Regions from separate parts of the Homo sapiens genome. Here regions 2 and 3 are each reported to be linked to region 1. Evidence: microRNA targets listed by miRTarBase, many of them from high-throughput screens and not tested one by one. Region 1 holds a microRNA gene; each other region holds the end of a gene's coding sequence.

Evidence for each region. The annotated mature microRNA hsa-miR-149-3p reads AGGGAGGGACGGGGGCUGUGC and lies in region 1 at 3,072-3,092, opposite strand. An mRNA with a match to its seed (bases 2 to 7 or 8) in the 3' UTR can be bound and repressed. Matches are read on the target gene's strand: a 7mer-m8 pairs with bases 2 to 8, a 7mer-A1 pairs with bases 2 to 7 and ends in A, and an 8mer does both.
Region 2: the mRNA of C11orf54 is a reported target of hsa-miR-149-3p. Seed matches in the 3' UTR shown: 7mer-A1 at 3,164-3,170.
Region 3: the mRNA of SSBP2 is a reported target of hsa-miR-149-3p. Seed matches in the 3' UTR shown: 7mer-m8 at 3,868-3,874 and 8mer at 279-286.

Annotation. Positions count from the first base shown.
Region 1 is chr2:240,453,972-240,459,147 of GRCh38, reverse strand. It overlaps MIR149 (microRNA 149), which reads right to left and starts at 3,147; the gene lies at 3,059-3,147. It overlaps GPC1 (glypican 1), which reads right to left. Exons shown (of 9, transcript NM_002081.3): 2 at 1-118. It overlaps GPC1-AS1 (GPC1 antisense RNA 1), which reads left to right and starts at 2,448. Exons shown (of 3, transcript NR_161169.1): 1 at 2,448-2,551. RefSeq lists enhancers at 1-592, 593-1,244, 3,197-3,847.
Region 2 is chr11:93,760,905-93,765,904 of GRCh38, forward strand. It overlaps C11orf54 (chromosome 11 open reading frame 54), which reads left to right. Exons shown (of 9, transcript NM_001286069.2): 9 at 611-3,845. The coding sequence ends at 784. Among named protein-coding and RNA genes, the nearest start is that of MED17, 21 kb to the right of the region's middle.
Region 3 is chr5:81,416,198-81,421,197 of GRCh38, forward strand. It overlaps SSBP2 (single stranded DNA binding protein 2), which reads right to left. Exons shown (of 17, transcript NM_001256732.3): 17 at 1-4,336. The coding sequence ends at 4,307. Among named protein-coding and RNA genes, the nearest start is that of ACOT12, 25 kb to the left of the region's middle.

The sequences.
Region 1 (5,176 bases):
ACGCGGCTGCTGTCCCGGAGCGCGGTCTCCAGCTCGGCATGGCTGCGGTTGGCCAGGTTCTCCTCCATCTCGCTGGTGCAGCAGGTGTAGCCCTGGGGACAGATCCGCAGGTGCTCACCTGTGGGGAAAGGCCAGTGTGAGGGAGAGGGGCTGGGACAGCACTGGGAGCCAGGAGGGCACCCTCAGGCTCTCCTGGGCAGGATGGCAGACCCAGGGTGGAGCACAGCTCAGGGGTGGGCCAGCCTGGGGGGTGCCCTGGGTGAAGGCAGAAGTGGTCGGGGTGTGGAGGGAGGAAAAGGCCTGGCTTCGGTCCCGTAGCTTCCCACACGTGACACAAGAGCACGGCTGCCTCTACAGGGCAGGAGGCCCCTTGGGCAAGTCCTGCCCCCCAGCCTGCTGTCCCAGCAGCTGCAAGCAAAGAACTGGCCTCAGGTTCCTGTGTGCAAGTGTGGAGAAGGCTCCCAGGCCCGAAAGGCACCCCTTGCCTGGGCCCATGTCTGAGGATGGGGAAGGAGGAAGGAATCCAATCCCCCTCTCTTCCCACACCAGCCCTGGGGGGCACCAAGCTCCCACTGCAAGGACGGCAGATCCCACCAACAGTGGGCTGGTCAGAGGCAGTGGCCCTGCAGGACCCCAGGCACGAGTCTGGTATGGGGGCAGGTGTGCTCTGGTGCAGCTGGCAGGCCCCATGAAAGGGTCATTGGACCATGCCCCAAGCCCTGCAGGGTGCACCCTGTGCCTCCTGGTGTCCTTGTGGAGTCCCCTCCTCTGCAGCCTGCCATGAGCTACTCTGCTCCAGCGTCCGAGGCAGTGACAGCGGCACTGCCATCAGAGACAGCTTCACCTCCTTGTGGGGAGTGGGGACAGGACAGGCTTTGAGTCAGCTCTCAGCCCTGCTGTGCACACCTCAGGGCCCACCTGGAATGGGTGTGTGGCATCAGGAAAAACTGCATTTTTTAAAGGGTGTGCATCGCACTGTGATGAAGGCTGCCGCAATCCTCATTTTATTAACCAGAAAACCGGGGCTTACAGGGATGAGGTCTCGTCCCAGCTATACAGTGAGGGGGCAAGTGGTTCCGGCTGCCTAAGCTCAGGACTCCACACTGACGGGGCCACACTGTTCCTTCTGGGCCTCGTCCCCCGCCTCTAAGGCCCTCCTGGTGCTGGCCTAGGTCAGGCACAGTGGAGAGGTGGAAGCAGGAGCCTGGCTTGGTCAGAGGGGTGGGGTCAAGGGGGGGCGTTGTCAGCAGGAATTCCAGCAACTTTCCTCAGGACTGCCGCCTCAGGGGCCTGTCTCATCCTGTTCTGGGACCCTGGGCCAGGGTGGCTGGAATGCAGCAGGTCCTGCATTCTTTTACGCCCTCCTGAGGGTCAGCAGGAAGTGAAGGCCAGGCCAGGGAGGAGAGGCAGGAGAGGGAGCCAGGACCGGGACCGAGGGCGGGGTCAGCCCGGGCAGAGGCACCTGGCTCGAGGCTGTCCTGGGGGAGCTGGCAGCAGCTCCAGCCCTGCCTGGAGGTGGGAGCAGGGATCTGTAGCCCCACTGCAGGCAGGGCCTGGAGCAGCGCAGGCAGTGCCCTACCCGCTTACTGCAAGAGAAGTCACCCCTCAGGCCTGGGGTCCAGGAAGCCCTTACCCACTAGAGGCCATCTGGGGTGGGGACCCAGGACTAGGTAACTACCCAGAGGTTGAATGCCTGGGTCAGACTGAGTTTGCTGATCTTCCGCACCCTCTAAGTACACACACTCAGGGAGGAGCCCGAGACAAGAGAAGGGAACAGAGAACCCGAATCCGGGCTTGGGCGGCTGCCGCTTGGCCCCTGTAGCCTCTGTGCCTGCTGACATGACAGCAAGGAGACAGGTTGTCAGAGGGGCCTGGGAGAGCGAGGGAGGGCCGAGGTAGGGGTTCTTATCCTGGAGCGCTCCCTCCTTGCCCTCTTTTCCTGTCTGAGTTCTGGAATGTACTGATGCAGGGGGCTCTGGCTTGAGCTAGAGGGGGAGGGAGTCCTCCGCAGGGGCTGCAGGTCCAGGGATTCCCCAGGGCCTGGACTTACATGTGCCCATGCTGCAGACAGAGCGGGAATGGCAAGTGCACCTGCGCCCCCCGCCCCTCCTTACCTCCAGATGCCTGCTGGAGGGGGAGTTGGGGGTCCAACAGAGTCTGGGGCCAGGAGGGCCTTGTGGGAGCCAGCTGGGGTGAGGACAGAGCCCGGCTCTGAGAGCCCTGGGGCCTAGTAGAGAAGGGGTGCTCCTTCCCCACTCCTCACATGGGTGGGAAGGCGCCCTCAGGCAAGAAGACTGGGACACAGGTACACTCGCCAGGGACCATCCTTCACTCTGCAGCCTTTATTCACTGATGGGATTCTGCCCCAGTCCCACCCCCGTGGGGGCAGGATTTAGAGCAGGAACCGCCCCTCCGGGTCCTTTCCTGGGGCCTGTGCCAGGCTGAGCAGACTCAGGAGGCGTCTCTCCGAGGGTGTGGGCTGTGATGGGGCCCTGTGCACCCATCCAGGCTGCCCAGACCAGGAGAGCACAGGTCAGCCGGACACATGATGGTAATGGGCTGGGCAGTGGGAGGGAAACGTGCCTGGGGGAGGGGGTGGCAGGTGCCAGCTGAGCTTCCCGGTGACACACCCTGGGCTCAGCTGAGATGGGCTCAGCTGTGACGGGGCACCCAGGCCAGGCTGGCTGGGCCACAGGAACCGAGTGAGCTGGTCCAAGACTCAGGACTAGGGCTCAAGCACTCCTAGGGAGGAGGGTGGGTGGCGTCCCCCGCCGGCTCCTCCTGTGCCCCTCCCTCGCGAGGTCCCGGCGGACCCACTCCCCAGCCCCCACCACGCAGACGGGAGAGGCTGACGAGAGGCATGGAGAGGTGAGGCCCGAAACACCCGTAAGATATGGGAGCTCCCCCCACCTGCAGGTTCTGAGGGGCTCCTCGGCGCCGTCAGCCACCTCTCACACCCCCTCACGGCCGCGCACCGGCCCCCGCGCCTCAGCCTCCCCCGCCGACCCCTCAGCCCCGCCCGGCCAACTCGCCCAGCCGGCCCGGCGACCTGCGTTGTTCCAGCTGCCCCAGCACAGCCCCCGTCCCTCCCTCCCTCCTCGGACAAGCACGGGAGTGAAGACACGGAGCCAGAGCTCGGGCGCCGGCCTGGGAGCCCCCGGCAGGCTGGACGCAAGGCGGGCGAAGGCCTGGGAGCCTCGGGCAGGCTGGATCGAGGCGGCCCCCTGAGGCCCGCTGCAGGCTGGACGCACGGCAGTCAAAGGCAGGAGGCCTCCCGCTGGCTTCCTTCTGCGGAGCTCCGGCCCGGCGCAGGCCGGGGCCACAGGTTGTGGTCCTGGACATGAGATGGCAGAGGCCGGCTCTGCAGAGTCCCCCTGCAGGGCGGCAAAGCAAGCCCCCTCCTGGAAGAATGCCAGGGGCTGGGGCCTTTCTGAATGGAGAGCAATGTGCCCAAGACCAGCTGTCATCTTAAATCTCCCCACCCAGGGGCCTCCCCACCCCCAGGGGCCTCCCCACCACTTCTCTCAGCTCAACACCTGGGGATAGAGAGGCCTCAGGCCAGGAGGGAACCCTCCCCATGTCCCTCTCCCTCTCCTTCCTGGCCTTTCTCCTCCTCCAACCCAGAGGGAGGCATTTTCCAACCTAGGGGGTGAGTCCCGGCAGCCCATCCCCTTCCCCCCGTGCAGGGAGGCATCTGGGCCCTTCCGGCCCACCCCTCCCTCTGGCCCTGGGGCTGCTCAGGTCAAGGTCACCGGGCCTGCTCCCCGCTGGGCCAGGGACTGGACCCTCTCTTCCCTGATCCCTGGGCTGAAGTTGCTGTAGCCGACCCATCCTTCCACAGCGCTCCCCTCCCTCAGTCACTGGGACACTTCCCTTCCCCAGTGCTCTGAGGATTTTTTTGGGGGGGAAGGGGATTATTTGTTTAATGGCAGATTCATCCCCCACCTCAAACCCAGAGTCTCCAGTTCCCAGGCTCCTGCTCCTCAGGTTAAAGCACAGAGCTCTTGCTCCCTGGCTCGTAGGCAGCTGCTGTCTCGTTCCATCTTCCCCCTCCCGATCCTGACGGTTCTGGACCACCCCACTCTGCTGCTCCTCACTAAGCCCCCACCAGCCTTAACTTTGGATACCTTTTAGGTCATGCATTCTCGTCCCCTGCTGACATGTCCCCACCCCGCAGTTTCCTCTTGGTCATCAGCACCTTCACCCCAAAGCTTTAGGCGAGACTCCCATCCTGACAGTGGCCCCCATCCCCAATGATGGACCCAGACCTCATTTGTCCAGACCCAGCCTGGCAGCTGCCCGTGACCAGTGGCTCTGGAGCCCTCCCAAGGAGAATGCAGAGAGATGATGGCGCCACGCCACGCCCATCCCTCCAGAAGCTTCCACGGCTCACACAGGAGGTGCAGACTGTAAAGCCGGCTTTATCCACCTTTACAGCCTCGTCCTAGACACTCAGTGTCAACAGACTCGAATGCCTAAGGTACCGGAATTTGGCGTGGACAGTCAGCCTGCATTGCCTCCCACGGTGCTGGAGTAGGGCTGTGTGCAGAGCTCCAGGCACCGCAGCCCCCCAACACGCAAGGGAAGAGCCTAGGCCTCCCCGCTCCTGCCCTCTACTCAGCTCTGCACCCGGCAACGGGGCCTTCCTGGCTGGCCGATGGCTGCGAAGGCTTTCCCCAAGCCCGAACCCTCTTCTCGAAGCCTGCCCCAGCCCCTGGCCCATCTGCTCTCGGACCCCAACCAGCTCCGGTGGCTGTGGCATCCTCCGGCACGTCCAGCAGCCTCCTGGGGTGAGGGTGCACTGGACAAACGACCCAGGGGGTTTCCTGGGGACCACCCACTGCCCAGGCTGCAGAGGATCTTTTCCTCACTTTTGCCCCATCCTCTAAGAAGCCTGCGCCCCTGGCCAGTCCCTGTCCGCCTGGGCTCCTGACGTCTGAGCCAGAGGCAGCCTTGGCCCCACCTGCGAGGTGGACCGGCCACGGCATCTCAGCTCCTCGTCAACGGCATCCACGGCCCCCAGACTCACCCCATCGTGCTTCCCTCCCCTCCCCACACCCCTGCCGTCTGCCCGAAGCCCCCCCGCCACCATTTCACCCAAATGACAGCGTCGCCAAGGAGCCCCTCCGCCGCCGCAGAACCTCCGCCGCGCACTGCGACCCGAAACCGAGGGGCG
Region 2 (5,000 bases), not on the chromosome of region 1:
CGCCTCAGCCTCCCAAAGTGGTGGGATTACAGGCATGAGCTACTCCGCCTACCCTGGTCATATCTTGATCCAGTGATTACATGCCTAGGATATTATACTTAAATATATGCATAATTGTGTAAAATTACTAGTTAAAAGGTTATTATTACAGTATTGTTGTAGTAGCAAAAGAATTAGAAATAATGCAAGTGTCAGTTGAGAAGTTACATACGCAATAGAATACCATGCAGGTATAAAAGAATGAGGAAGCTCTTTTATGATTTCATATACAAAGATCTCAAAACTATATTGTTACATGAAAAAAAGTTACATGCAGAAAAGTGTGTACAAAATACTACATTTGAGTAAAAATAAAAGTAAGTATTTATGGAAGGATATACAAGAAAATGCTTACACTGGTTACCTGCTAGGAAGGGGAGTGAGTGGTGAGGGCAAGAGAGAAGAAGATACATTTTACTGAATACATCGTTTTGCCCCCTTTGAATTTAGAACATGTGAATGTATTACCTATTTAAAAAATAAAAACTATTGCAACGTAAAAAGTTATCCCTCCCCCTTAAACTCTAATCAATAATTTGAGTACTAACATATTGTTTGTCTGTTATCTTAGGGGTTTGATTTGCGACTGGAGCACACTCATTTTTTTAGTCGTCATGGAGAAGGTGGACACTACCATTATGACACTACTCCAGATATAGTGGAATATCTTGGATACTTCTTACCTGCAGAGTTTCTCTATCGCATTGATCAACCAAAAGAGACGCATTCAATTGGGCGAGATTAAATCAGCTGATACTTATTTAGAAAAAGAAATAATTAAGGTTAATTAATTGATTGACTTATTAATTAATACTGATATAAAACCAATAGAAATGATCCCACAGGCCAGGCACAATGGCTCATGCCTATAATCCCAGCACTTTGGGAGGCTGAGGCAGGAAGCACACTGGAGCCCAGGAGTTTGAGACCAGCTTGGGCAACATAGCAAGACCCTGTCTATTTTTTTAAAAAAGTAAAAAATAGAAATTATCTCACTACTTAAATCCCATTTTTTTCACTTCATATGAAAGAACATATTGATAGTATATTCTATATTATTTCATAGATCTGTCTGAAAGAGATTGGGAACAAAAATATCTAATTGAGATATTCTTTAATTTTTTACATAGCAGCTTTATTTTTTTTATTCTGTAGTATCAGCGAAATCAGTCATGTTTATACCTTGAATATAAATATCAGGAATCATGCAATTATTTCTACTATGTATTTAGTAGTATCTTATATTTGTATAACATTATTACATTTTGCAAATTAGTATCACAACTGCTAAGTAGATGTTTCTGAGTATTAGAAAAATCAGTGTTATTACCTGCAGGATATTAAAAAACATTTGAAAAAGAGAAAAAGAAAAATCAGTGTTTAGAAATGTTGATAGTTATTGAATCTTTGAATTGAATTTTAAAAATCCATTCTAGTAATCAGAGTATACTTTTTTTATAGAACAAGGTGGCAGGTGGGGAGCCCTTTACCCTTCTGGTGAAGTTAAACCATAGAAGTTTACAATTTGCCTTTCACAAACATTAGCAGTCCGGGCATGGTGGCTGAAGCCTGTGATCCCAGCATGTTGGGAGGCCGAGTGGGAGGATTGCCTGAGCCTAGGAGTTTAAACCAGCCTGGGCACCATGGTGAGACCCCATCTCTATTATTTAAAATGTTTCTTAAATAAAAAAAACACAAACATTAGCAACTAGTTGGCTAGCCATAATTCCTCCCTTGTTTCGATTGCCAGTTAGAAGCAATTTTTATTTCACTGGTTATTTGCAAGAGAAGGGGTAAAAAAACAGCATCAGAGTGCAACACTGAAGTGAGCTTACTTTAATTTGTAAGTGAAGCTGTTGCTGAACATGACCACTATCGTTGCTGAAATATAAAATTATACTCACTGATTGTAATGGTTGAAATTTTCCTGAATAATCATTAGCCAAAGATCAACTCTCTAATGGTGCTAATGGCAATCTAGCTAATGTGCAAATTTAGGAAGTCTTCAGTACTAAGTACATAATTTTCAAATAATATTTTTTAATTGTCTACTTTGGATGTTAGCTATGTCTTGTGAGTATAAATTCCAATTTTAAGCACTATTTTGATGCAAAAAAATGAATAAAAAATTTAATTTATGATATGTTTGTAATATCTTACCTCCAGACAAAATAATATTAATAGTCTATCATTTAACAAATATGTATTGAACACCTACCCTTCTCTCTGGAGTGTACACTTCATGTGGGCAAGGGCCTTGTTCACGACTGTAGCACTAGTGCCTTTAACTGCTAGCAAAGTAGCCACTCGGATGATTATACCAAACACTTTACTAAAGCTGGGGATCTGTCTAGTGGGGAAGACAAACAATAAATATATAATATGTCAGGTGGTATTAAATGCTATGAAAAGAAAGGAGTAGATGGACTGTAAAGGAGGATGCTATTTTTTTGTGGCCATCCCGCACTGAGACAGGATGCATTCCACACTCAAAATTTGGTTCACATGTCCAGACTGATAGCCAAGTTCAGTGGCTCACGCCTGTAATCCTAGTACTTAGGGAGACCAAGGCAGGAGGATCACTTGAGGCCAGGAGTTCAAGGCCAGCCTGGGCAACAGAGAGAGACCCCCATCTCTGCAAAAAAAGAAAAAAAATTTTTTAATTATCTGGGCATGGTTGTGCACACCTGTTGTCCCAGCTGCTCAGGAGGCTGAGGCACGAGAATCACTTGAGCCCAGAAGTTGGAGGCTACAGTGAGCTATGATTGTTTCATTGCACTGTAGCCTGGGCAACACAGTGAGACCCTGTCTCAAAAAGAAAAAAAAAATGACTGATGAAGCCACACACACACCAACAGAGTATGAAAGGGTTGTTACTCACATAATGAAGCTTTCTGGGGAAAGCAGGGCAGCTCCTAAGCAGGATTTGACAACAGGGAAGGAGACTGACTTGGAGTTTTTTGGTGGTTAGGGAGTAGGGCCAGAGTGATGTTTCTTGCATGTGGTTTGAATTTCCCACTGGTATCAAAGAAGGAAACACCCAGGCTTGCTTGCTTTATTTTTTTAAAGAGATGGTGTCTCACTATGTTGCCCAGGCTGGGCTCAAGTCATCTTCCTGCCTCGGCCTCCCAAAGTGCTGGGATTACAGGCATGGGCCACCATGTCTGGCGAGCACCCAGGCTTTCTTAGCTTGCCAGAGGTGTAGGGCATAAGGGGACGAGGGGTGGGATAAGGCTTAAAAGCCACCAGCAGTCAAACATAAATTAAGTCAGATTCTTAATTACAGATTTCAGATCTGATTTCAGATCAGAGCTTATTTCAGGTCAGATTCCAGGTGTAGAGATCATCTGAAGCAGTCCTGGGCCTCTTCACACTACAGATACCAACACTGCCTTTACTCTTCCATTAGTGTCCTCCAAAATGGGGTGCATGGACAGCAGGTACACATGACCTTCCAAGGGGTGTGGGAATATTAGAACATCTATTTATATATTTTATTTCGTCCTTTTAAGTTTCTGTGGTTTTGTGTACATTTCTTACGTTAGGGATTTCAGTTCAAAATTGTATTGCTGATAGACACAATTCAAAAAGCTTGGAGACCAGGTACATTCACACCATCTAATAGAGATGGGGGAAAAGATCAAAATGCTTTTCTTTTTAAATTTTTTCTTAGTTTTCTTTCTTTATAGAGACAGAGTTTCGCCGTGTTGGCCAGGCTGTTCTCGAACTCCTGGCCTCAAGTGATCTGCCCGTCTCAGCCTCTCAAATTGCTGGGATTACAGGCATGAGGCACTGCACCTCACCCAAAGTGCTCTTCTTACTCTTACATTCACTCAGTATAACACAGAAAGCTTCTGTGACCAGATGCATGGGGGTTTTTCCCACACACCAAGCAATTCTCCAGCAGACATCAGCTGGGGGTCCTATAATTTAATTCAATTCTAACACTATTTACTTGGAGATAGCGTCAGATCCCACAGTTTAATGGTTCAATCCTCCAAGACTGCCTCCCACTTCCGATGCCAATCACAAGCTTCAGGTTGTGACCTGTACTTTTGACCAACCCACTGTAAATCGGGGTCTCTATGCCTACCTCTTCAGGTTTGATTAATTTGCTTAGAGCAGATCACTGAACCCAGGGAAACACTTTACTTATATTTTCCAGTTTATTAATAAAGGATATAATAAAGTATACAGATGAACAGCCAGATGGAAGAGATGCATATGGAAAGGCCAGCAGAAGTCCAGAGCTTCCACACCGTTTCTGGGTGCCCCACCTTCTAGGCATGTCCACCTGTTCAGCAATTTGGAAGCTATCCAAACCCTTTTCTTTTGGACTTTGGCTTTGTTTTTGTTTTTGAGACAGGTTCTCACTCTGTCACCCAGGCTGGAGTGCAGTGGCATGATCTCTGCTCACTGAAACCTCTGCCTCCCAGGCTCACGCAATCCTCCCCTCTCCGCCTCCTGAGTAACTGGGACTAACAGGTGTGCGCCATGACGCCCAGCCAATTTTTGTATTTTTCGTAGAGACGGGGTCTCATCATGTTACCCGGGCTTGTCTTGAACTCCTGGGCTCAAGTGATCCACCCGCCTCTGCCTTTCTTTTGGGATTTTATAGAGGCTTCCTTATGTAGGCAGAATTGATTAAATTATTGGTCACTGGTGATAAGTTCAACCTTCAGCCTTTCCTCTCCTTCAAGGTTGGTGTTGGGGCTGAAAGCCGGAATTCTTTAATCACGTGGTTAGTTCCTGGGCAAGGAGCCCCTATCTTGAAGCTATCCAGGAGCTTCTGGCATGCAGAAACCCACTTATCACTGTCATTTCATTAGCATACAAAAAACCATTTATCACTTTGGAGATTCCCAGGGTTTTAGGAGCTGTGTGCCAGAATACTGGGACTAAGACTATCTATACATACTGCATATCTTATTATACATCACAGTGTCATACCATCTTTCCAA
Region 3 (5,000 bases), not on the chromosome of region 1:
AGAGCAAGACTGTCTCAAAAAAAAAAAAGAAAAAAAAATTTAAAAAAAAGGAAAACCAGTGTCAAAACACTAAAATGCATTCCAAAATCAAAATCAAGTGGCTATGATTTGTGGCACTCCTTCGAATTAGCAGTGATAATCAAGAAATGAAAATTGCAATTATTTCTCCTGGGAAAACTACTCTTAGTACTATACACTATATGCAGATGAAAATGGTAAGGGCTGAGAAGGTAACAGTGTTCAGTTGGTATTTTATTTCTCCTGGAAGATGCAGGGATTGGGAGGGAGGCAAGGATAAAGCCACGGAAGAAGTAATCAAGACTTCATAGTATTAAGGACGGTGGAAAACTTCCCCAGCCAAAGGAGCAGTTCTGAATGCTTTGCTATACATTCCTAGGGACAATATGATGAAGAAAAGATATAGACAGATGTGGGACTTCTTCATGCCCCAAACTGAACTTACTTATTTTCATTTGTTGTCTTTTAAACCACAGAAGTGCTAACTGAATAACCCTATGAAATGCAATGGAGTTCAGATATCTTAGAGAATCATAAAAATAGAAATGGAAGTTTTATTTTATTCTGGAGGGAAAGGGCTGTTTTGGGCACTTTTCATGGCTGGGGGAGCAGAATTGATTTACTTGTTAATCTTTTTGGCAATTGAGAAATCTTTTCTATTTTTGAGATGGAGTCTTGCTCTGTCACCCAGGCTGGAGTGCAGTGGCACAATCTCGGCTCACTGCAACCTCCGCCTCCTGGGTTCAAGTGATTCTCCCGCCTCAGCCTCTTGAGTAGCTGGGATTACAGGCAGCCACCACCATACCTGGCTAATTTTTGTATTTTTAGTAGAGATGGGGGGGTTTCACCAGGTTGGCCAGGCTGGTCTTGAACTCCCGACCTCAGGTGATCTGCCCACCTTGGCCTCCCAAGTGCTGGGATTACAGGCATGAGTGCCCAGGCGGCAATTGAGAAATCTTAACTTCGGATTCCTAGCTGTGAACTTCCTCTTTATCAGCAACTGACTCCATACTGGAACATTTTCAAAGGAGTGCTAATAAGATTCACCCATCAAATATGTGTTGTATTACAAGATCAATGACACCCTACAGCCTTTGTTCCCATGGGCAACTTTGCTGTAAGACACGTAGTTAAGAATCATACATACCCTCAGAAAGAATTTGACATGTATTTTCAAATGCAGTGAGTTAGGCAGAATGCAAAGCAGAGTAACAAGATTTTACCTACTGCTTACTTTTTCATTTTACATGTGTATTTAATATGTTCAATGCAGCAAGAATTGCTGATATTATTACTGTGAGATGACGTGTAAAAATAACACTAGGAACAGGTAGTATACATCAAGACCAACACGAATGCATTGATAAAGATGGAAAACACAAGAGAAAAACATTAAATAGTCTTATTACAAGAAAAAAGGATAAGGGTTAAATGATTCAAAATCTAAACAAAAATTAATATACAGATATACTGTCTTCCATTCAGTGCATGAAAGAATTATCTGGATATAAAAATCAAGTATCCTTACATTCTGGGTTTCTTGGATACAATTTTCTCCTCAAAAATAATTTTTCAACTATTTCAGGAAATTTTTAAATCTAAAATAACTCTTTTTAATCTGGGCTCCAAGAAGAAAAAAGAAATAAATACTTATAATCAATTGACTGCTCTGCCTTGAAAAAAAAAACGAATTTTACTTTTAGGTTAGAAATAATGGGGATCATGATGCAATTCATATTCTCGTATTACCCCCAAAATAAGGGTAGATAAAATCATATTCATCATTCTTTGTGATAAGAAATAATACCTTCTCAGAAGGCGAAGAAAAGAATTTCAAGATCGGTAACAATGGAGAAGAGTCAACAAAATATTTGAAAATTCTAGCATTATAAGATTAAGCTTAATAATCAAAGGACTGTCAATTTTTATATGATTGTCATAAAATATGAAAGTCAAAATTCTTCTTGGTAAAGTCAGGTGTCTGGACAAACTATCACCTTCATTCAGGTTACCCTGGCTTGAGGTAAAGACCTTTTCATCTGAATTTGCATGAAAGGTTTCTGCAGCTTGACAGCATGAGGCTGTTCTCCGGTGTGCACTCCTAGGCACCTGAATACTGTGTGTGATTAACTGAGGCTCATTTTATGATAGTTTAAATCTGCAACATAAATTTAATTCAGCTTTTTTTTCTCAACAGTTCTGCCTAGTATCCCTGTTTAGGCACAGGCAAAATCTTTATTTTTACAAGGACTAAATCATTATGAATTTGAGAGAAGTAAGTCATCAGGAACTAGTACATACAGTCATATGTTACTTAATGATAAGTATACATTCTGAGAAATGCATTGTCAGGCAATATTGTCCTTGTCTGAACATCATAGAGTGTACTTACACAAACCTAGATGGTATAGGCTCCTACACACCTAGGCTATATAATATAAACTATTGCTCCTAGGCTACAAACCTGTACAGCATGTTACTGTACTGAATACCAAAGGCAACTGTAATACAATGGTATTTGTGTATCTAAGCATAGAAAAGATATGCTAAAAATATGGTATTATAATCTTATAGGACCACTGCTGTATATGCAGTCTGTGGTTGATTGGAATGTCATTATGAGCTGCATGACTATATCCTGCCAAATTTTCACTTTAGAGACTATAAGCCTAAAGGAAAGAGAAGATTCCTCTTACCTGCAATTAAACAATGCTTTTCAAAGTCTCTAGAGTTTGGATTCATAGTTGGTATTTATCAATGGTTGTTTGTATCACAATTTTAACACAAAGGATCACCCAGTTATCTTTCAGAGTCTAAAATTAAAGTCTTCATATCTTTCTATTGTGATTTTGGTGTATGTATGTATAATTAAGCACAAAATCCCAAAAGATCTGGAAAGTGCCATAGAGCAAGGTGCTTTCCATAAGGGAATTAGATTAAAAAAAATTTACTTATTCTTTTTTGAACAGTCAGTTACACAATGTAGTTTTAGCCTGCTGAAGTCAATGGCTAGATAAAGCAAAGTTACTATCAATGATTTGCTCCTGAATAAAAGCCTTATATTCCAGGAACAGAGCAGAGGCTCCCTGGCCAGTGAGAACCAATACCAGTCAATTCTGCTGGTAGCAAGCAAGATACCTGGATAGAAAAGCAGCATTCCAGAGGCCTCAGGAGTGCTAATAACTCTCTTCTCCCTTGTGCTCAAAGTCTCCTTCTATGTATTTATTTCTAGTGTCTATAAGAATATGCTCACAAAAAGTCTGAATAAAAACCAGATACCATTTCACATTAGTATGTTATTAAAAATTTACCTCTAGTACTCCTGGTGAGAAGTGACAAATTCAAGCAAATGCTTTTGTTATCACTTTTGGGCTTCATCATGTTAAAGAGAAAAGATGTTGCTAAATATATGACAACCCCGGTCACTTTATTGCTATGGTCTAAATGATTTGGGCTATTTAATGATTTCTGTATCATCTAAGACAAACAAATCAAGAACTCCGTTTAAAGCAGTTATTGCAGAAATATACTGTGTGAGGCCCCAGTTAAGCTTTTACTGATTTGAAGTGTTTTTCTCAAATAAAAATTAAAAAAATACTTTTCACTGAAGGTAACTGAGAAATTGTTTGATTCAACATAAAGACGAAGACACATTTTCTTCTATTTTTTGAGACAGTACACTTTGTGATTCACAGGATAACTTGCATCAGACGCAATTTAATGAAAGCTCTCAAATAAGCGATTTTATTCCTATCCATGATTGCAGACATTTACAAAACCATAACATCTGAGTTCACCTTAAAAAATAACTTATATAAAGCAGTGATATACACAGCACAAAATAGTTCAGGGAGGGGGCAGGAGCAACTTGTAATAATTAAAATGTAAACGTGAAAAAAAGGATGGAATAAAAGTCCCTACTTATTTCTACTTAAGATGTCATGTGATAATATTTTACAATGTCCTGTGGGTCAATGTATGTATGTGTATATGTCTGTATAACATACACATATACAGTACATTCTCTTTCCCACACATATACATACACACATAATTATTTGCAGTTCAGTTTAGGGCAATTCTAATATGCCACTCCGTACAGTTGTTTGAATCACATTTGGACCCGCTTTCTTCACAAAAGAGGGGAGAGAGCAGGAAATAAAAAGGTTGGTTTGGTGTGACTGAGATTCCTTTGTTTAACTGTACACTGTGATGAATAATTTTCTTCCGTAGTAGTTCTGTGAAGGGCTGACTCACTGTGGTTTTCATGAGGAGACTTGGTAATGGATCACACGCTCATTGTCATGCTAGGGGAGTACTAGAAGGAAAGAAGAATCCATATTTTAACAACAATTCTTTTAGAGATCACTAAGGTTCTTCTTGGTACAACAGAAACGATGAATTCTAATTTCTTATCATCTTTTATGTGCAAGCTTTTCATCTCATACAACATAAAATAAGAAACTATAAAAAAAGTAAAATGATACAGACTTAACTTAGTACTGAAATTTTAAATATTTCCCCTGGAAAGCATCAAGTCCTATCCTCTCCCTGCACCCAGAGGCTCATCATTACCCAGTCCCTCTGCCTCCCTCCATCCAGACAGATTTATGTTTTGCAGGCACTTGTAAAAACCTTTGGTAAATTTAGTCCAAGGCTGGATCATAACTAAGTAAGTATGAGGTCTAGTCTTTGCTGTCTACTAGCTTGTAAACTGAGGAGGCTACCTAACCTGTCTTGACTTCAGTTTCCCTATCTGTAAAGGGGCTTGGGGAAGATGAGATATAAAATCCTTAAACCATGTATTTATTGAATACACAGAAAGTGCTCAGCAAGTGTTAGGTTAATACTGTAGGGAAACAAAACAGAAACAACTCCAAGCTGGCCCTGGGAAGCTCTCATTAAAGCATTTAAAATACTTAAGAGTCTAATTTATACTTCAGCATTTAAGCATCTTGCCCATAATCTGTGACTCTAATCTT